2 separate regions of the Homo sapiens genome follow, and region 2 is linked to region 1. Evidence: fine-mapped expression QTL. A gene starts in region 1. The other region holds a variant in brackets. All regions are shown on one strand. Distances are from middle to middle.

Region 1 (2,921 bases):
GAAACTATGATTCCATGTCTATGAGATGGAGTTTCACTCTGTCGCCCAGGCTGGAGTACAGTGGTGCCATCTTGGCCCACTGCAACCTCTGCCTCCCAGGTTCCAGTGATTCCCCTGCCTCAGCCTCCTAAGTAGCTGGGCCTACAGGTGCATGCCACCATGCCTGGCTAATTTTTCTATTTTTAGTAGACACGAGGTTTCACCATGTTGGCCAGGCTGGTTTGAACTCCTGACCTCAAGGGATCTGCCTGCCTTAGCCTCCCAAAGTGTTGGGATACAGGCATGAGCCACCATGCCTGGCCTAAAGTCCTTTCAATTCTAAGATTTTTTTTTTGCCCAAGGAGCTTATCTGCCACTATTGTTTCCAACATGTCCTTGGCCCACAGCTTAGAGAGTCTGGTCTTCTTAATTATCTTTTCAAGTGTTTATGACTTAGTTCCTCAGCTAGACTGTGAAACTACTTAACAACAAGGACTGTGTATTGAATGTCTGTGTCACACAGCAGTGTAAATGCTGGGTAAACACTCATTGGTTGCCTGACATAGTAACTCATGCTTTAAGCCTTCCCATAGAAGGGTGAGAGATTGGGAGAGTGGAAGAAGAATGATCACTGGCCTTAGAAAGCAGAAATCTGGTCCCATTTCTGCCCATCTTTTCTCATTTCTCATCCTGCAGGCATCTGAGTCTTAGACCCACCTATCCCACTTCCTCAAGAAGCCCTTGGTGGAACTTTGCAAATGACCAAAGAGGGAGAATTATAATAAGGTTGTTAGTTTCCAGAGAACATTACACCTAAGCTTCTCCACGCTTGTAATGGAGGGATGGATGGATGGATGGATGGATGGATGGATGAATGGATGGATGAAAGGGTGGACAGAAGGGTGGATGGATGGGCACATGGGTGGATGGATGGTTGGATGGATGATGGATGGATGGAAGAATGGACAGATGGGTAGATAGATGGACAGATGGGTGGCCGGGTGGATGGATGGATGGATGGACTGAGTCAAGTAATGTCAATTAGAGACCTGAGTGTTCTTTCCTCTGTGCTCTACTCACACTATCATATTTCCTAGCAGTCCATGGCACATGATGTCTGCTCAGTCTCAGGGTGAATCTGAGGTCAATATCTTTGCAGTTGGGTTTCCCTAGATGTTCTGTCCCATCAAGCTGGTACCAACTAATTAAACCCACTGAAAAGCAGAGACTCCCTTCTCGTCTTTCCAAACAGAGTCACACTCACAGTGCTATCAGCCCCTTCTCTTATTCTGGCTGTCTGGCCACAGCCTGGATTCCGGCATCAGAATTTGTTCTGTCCTTGGGCTTGCCAGACATACTTTCTCTTGTATTCACCACCTCTTCAAGCCTAGGATGGAGCCCCACGGGGCACCAAAGATGTCTGACCCCAGCACTGTTTATCTGGCTGCAAACCCACTAATAACATAGTCAACGACAGTCAGTACAGAGCAGGGGCCCCATACCTTATTTCTGCCAAGGCTTTATGGATGACTCTCTCCCCCTTCAACAAATGCTCCTTAATGTTCCCACCATCTTATTATTCATGCTGTACCAAAGACATTGTGAAATGCCCAGGCTCTTCTTCCTTCATGTCCTGCAGCCAATTATAGAGATTGGTGCAGGCCTGACCCACCTGTACCAGACGGTATAAACACAGCGCAATGCCCTGGAGAAATCAGTTGGAGTCTCCAGGGATCAGGGTTCCAGGAACTCAGGATCTGCAGGTCAGTGATGGACAGGCAATATTCTCTCTCTCTTTTCTTTCTTTTCTACTCTCTCCTGTCAATATCTCTGGTATGCCCTCTATCCCTTCACTCCTCCTGGCAAGCTGTCTAGGTAACAAGGTAGTCCCCTCATATGACATGATGGGACATCAAAAACATTTAGGAGCACATAAAGAGATTTGAGGAGAAGGAATAGGTTAAGCCAAATCAAGATTTCTGAACTACTTAGAACAACTGACTTTAGAAAGTAATCTCAAAAGAAACCATCTGGGCCAATGGTATTCAAACCGTGTTTGGTGGAAGCTTAAGAGATTTTTTGTTTTCGTTTTTTTTTTTTTTGTGCTCCTTGGTAGCTCCTCAGTGTCTTCTTTGTAGGCAAGAGAAATACTAGCAGGGTTCCAAAGTCTCCATTGCTTCCTGTGTCAGCAAAGCAGCTGCCCTTTATCCTTTTTACAATCATTAGAATTCTGCATAAAATTTTATTGTGAAACTTAAAACAGTTTTGAAAGATACCTTACTCAATCTTTCCATCCAATGTTGATAAGTTGAAGGCCCAGGGATAAAAGGTGGCAAAATAAATTGGTAGCAGAGCTAGGTCTAGGACTCAGCCTTTCTATTCAAAGTCTGCTCTGTGTGTTTCTATGTCCTGGCCACAAGGACCAGGGTAGTTCAATTAGGGTGGTTGGAGAGAGCTTCAAGTGAGCTGTAAGCCATGCTTCATGACTTCAAGATCTTATAAACTTTTATAAGGGAAACAAATATCTTTATGTACAACAATAAATAATACAGTAAAATTTAATAGGAGTTCAGAGTAGAGTTACAATAGTAAGGGAAAGATTCATTAAACTCTGAGTCATGGAATTATAAATAGTTTGGCCTAGAAAGAACCTTCATAACCACATAATCTAATCCCATGAATGTATAGTGCTGAAACTGAGGGTTGGAGGTTAAAAGACATAACCCTGTATGTCTAAGCTGTAACTCTACACTGGTAATTAATTTGATAGAACTAGATACTGAACCCATCTATACTGATACTATCTCCAGTGATCTTAATATCAAAAGATCTGAATGGATGACAATGAGAAGGGATGACTTTTGAGGCAGGGAGAACAATGGGACACCTGTGAGTACGTCCACTGAGAAGATAAGAAAGGAATTATGTCGCCAGGAGGTGTG
Region 2 (2,921 bases), 42 kb after region 1:
CCATTAACTCATCATTTAGCATTAGGTATATCTCCTAATGCTATCCGTCCCCCCTCCCCCACCCCACAACAGTCCCCAGTGTGCGATGTTCCCCTTCCCTTCTCTTATCTTATCACTCTGACCTCTTCTGCCTCCTTTCTCTACTTTTAAGGACCCTTGTGATTAGATTGGGTCCACCTAAATAATCCAGGATAATCTCTTTATTTTAAGGTTAGCTGATTAGCAACCTCAATTCCATCTGTAACCTTAATTTCTTTTTTGCCATGTAACCTAACATAGTCACAGGCCCAAGGGAATAATAGGATGTGGGAATTGCGGGTGGTGGAGTAGGGGCATTATTCTGCTTACCACAGGGGACCTTGGATGTCAGTAAAAAATGGTGAGGAAGAAAACAGGAAACGTAGAATAATCTAAACAAATCTTTGAAAAATAAGTCGAAATGTGGGGTTAGAAAAAGGGCAGAACTAAAATGTTAAGACAAATTAAAATGTTAAGCCTATAAGTTGAGAGGGAGATGATCAAGGTTAAAAATACTCATAAATCATATTTTTTTGGGTAGGGGGTTAGATATTTATTAATTTTAGACCCTGAGAAGTAAAATAGTCATGACAAAAATTTAATAGTAACCACTAAAACAAGAGAAACAGAGTATATAACTTCTAAATCAATATGGGAAGGGGAATGGAATAAGAAAACAATAGCAACCACCAACACCCCACCCAAAATAAATAATAAGGTGAGAGAGAAAAAGAAGCATTGAAAAGGGGCTAAAATAAAATAAAAAATTAAGTCATGCCCGTAATCCCAGCACTTTGAGAGGCCAAGATGGGTGGATCACCTGAGGTCAGGAGTTCGAGACCAGCCTGACCAACATGGGGAAACCCCATCTCTACTAAAAATTCAAAATTAGCTGGGTGTGGGGGTGCATGCCTGTAATCCCAGCTACTCTGGAGGCTGAGGCAGGAGAATCGCTTGAACCCAGGAGGCAGAGGTTGTGGTGAGCAGAGATTGTGCCATTGCATTCCAGCCTGGGCAGCAAGAGCGAAACGCCATCTAAAAAAAAAAAAAAAAAAATTAAGATAGTAAAACAAATCCAAATACATTAAAGATTACAAAAAATGAAAATGAACTAAACTTCCTAGTTGAAAGACATATTGTCAGATTGGATTTTAAAATCTGGCAATGATATTTCCAGGACACAGTCCTAAAATATTAAACACAGAAAAGTTGAAAGTAAAGGGATGGAAGAACACAGTCAAACTAACTAGAAGAGAGCTGGGTTCACCCTTTTATATCAGAGCAGAATTTCACTGAGAAAACACTAACAGGAAGGGGGAAAGGCACAACATAGTGA[T/C]GAAGCACTTAATTCTCAACAAATGTATGACACTTCTAAACTATTATGACTGCAAAAAAAAAAAAAACCTCAGCATATATAAAATTTTGGAAGAGCCATGGCTATCAGCTGACATGCACTTACCATATTTGCATTGTCCTACTACAAACTTTACCCATATGACCAAGGTGCTGTCTTCATCCCCATTTTACAGATGGGGAAATTTCCCCATAGAGAAAAAGATTTGGGCCATGCCTTGGTTTCTTCTTGACTCTGCTTCCTGCTGATTGATCCTCACACCTCACCTGGAGACCTACTTCACATTATCCATCAGGATGAGAACTGGTGTGCCTTTACCAAAGGACCACAGTCACCTTCAAAACGTGTTTAGATAGATCTGGATGGAGACTTATGTGGTTGCAGATGAAAAAAAAGTCCCCATGGTATATCTGACTCCATGTCATTCACTGCATGAACACTCACACACATGCACACGTACACAGGCAAACACAATCCTGTTCTGGTCCGGCAGTAGTGCCAACACTCAAATCCCAGGTCCTACTCTGAAGCCTTTGAGGAAACCATTGTCATTCTGGGGTTTATGGGAATATTTCTTCTTGGTGCCCCTTGTTCCTCACAGAAGCTTTTTTTCTGTGCTGTGGGCTTGCTATCCTAGCTTTCCAAGCTATCCTAGTTTTGCAAATTTCTCTGATCAATCACATCAGGTTCTTGGATCATCCCAAAATTAAAGAGGTACGTTTTGCTGCAAGAGACAAAGACATTCACCTCTCACACAGTTTGAATTCCTGGGTAGAAACAGATTTCAATGCTGGCCAGCCTCTGTAGCTCCCAGTGCCCCCTCAATTATGACTCCCGAGGCATTGGAGCAGGATCCTCACCTTGCGCAAAGATAATTAGGTGTGCTGAAGAAAGCCAGACACTGCTCTTTCTTAGCTCTGCATCCTTAAAAAGTTACCACTACTCCTTCTCTTTGAACCTTTGACTTGTCAATGGTAAAGTGCCTATGATTCTTAAAGGGATAAAAACGCAACCTATATAAAGCACCTGGCATAGTGCCTGGCACAGGTGGGTGTTTAACAAATGTTAACTCCTTTCTATCCCACTGTGGGTGTCCATATCCTCTTGGGTAGGCTGCCTCTGGTTTCCATTGTGTCATCAGAGCCATACTAAATCGATGTGTTGGACATGGATCCCAAGAACTAATTTCTGGAATGAGTTATGCCTACCAACTTCCCTGATACTTACTTCTGTCTCTCCATTTATCAAATGGAAATGTTTGCATTTGGCCTCTGCCAGTTGGAGTAACCAAAAGGCTTAGAGGTTTTGGAGAGGTCCTACACTGCCATCTGTTTGACCACATACTGCCTTTCACGTGTAATAAGCATTGTTTCTTACATTTGTCTAGGAATTAGCAGTTCACAAAGCACATTCGCATATAAGGGCTTGTTTTGAATTGATCTTGGCAGCAATTCTATGAGACAAGTAAAAGGTAGGTCAAGCATTATAATCCTCATTTTAAATCTGGGAAAACTGAATCTCAAAAAGGTTGAAAGACTTGTCTAGGGGA

Which allele goes with the higher level. Positions count from the first base shown, and alleles are read on the strand shown. Sizes are in standard deviations (SD) of each study's normalised expression.
In carriers of allele T in region 2, the expression in sun-exposed skin of the gene that starts at base 1,696 in region 1 tends to be higher than with C alone (small effect, 0.23 SD a copy in GTEx).

The links. PIP is the estimated chance that this variant, and not a neighbour inherited with it, causes the effect.
Region 2: its variant is fine-mapped to the expression of IL1F10 in sun-exposed skin (GTEx, PIP above 0.99).

Annotation. Positions count from the first base shown.
Region 1 is chr2:113,066,275-113,069,195 of GRCh38, forward strand. It overlaps IL1F10 (interleukin 1 family member 10), which reads left to right and starts at 1,696. Exons shown (of 5, transcript NM_173161.3): 1 at 1,696-1,742.
Region 2 is chr2:113,108,357-113,111,277 of GRCh38, forward strand. It overlaps a transcript of IL1RN not described here. Among named protein-coding and RNA genes, the nearest start is that of IL1RN, 18 kb to the right of the region's middle. The variant T/C (reference allele first, on the strand shown) is at 1,355.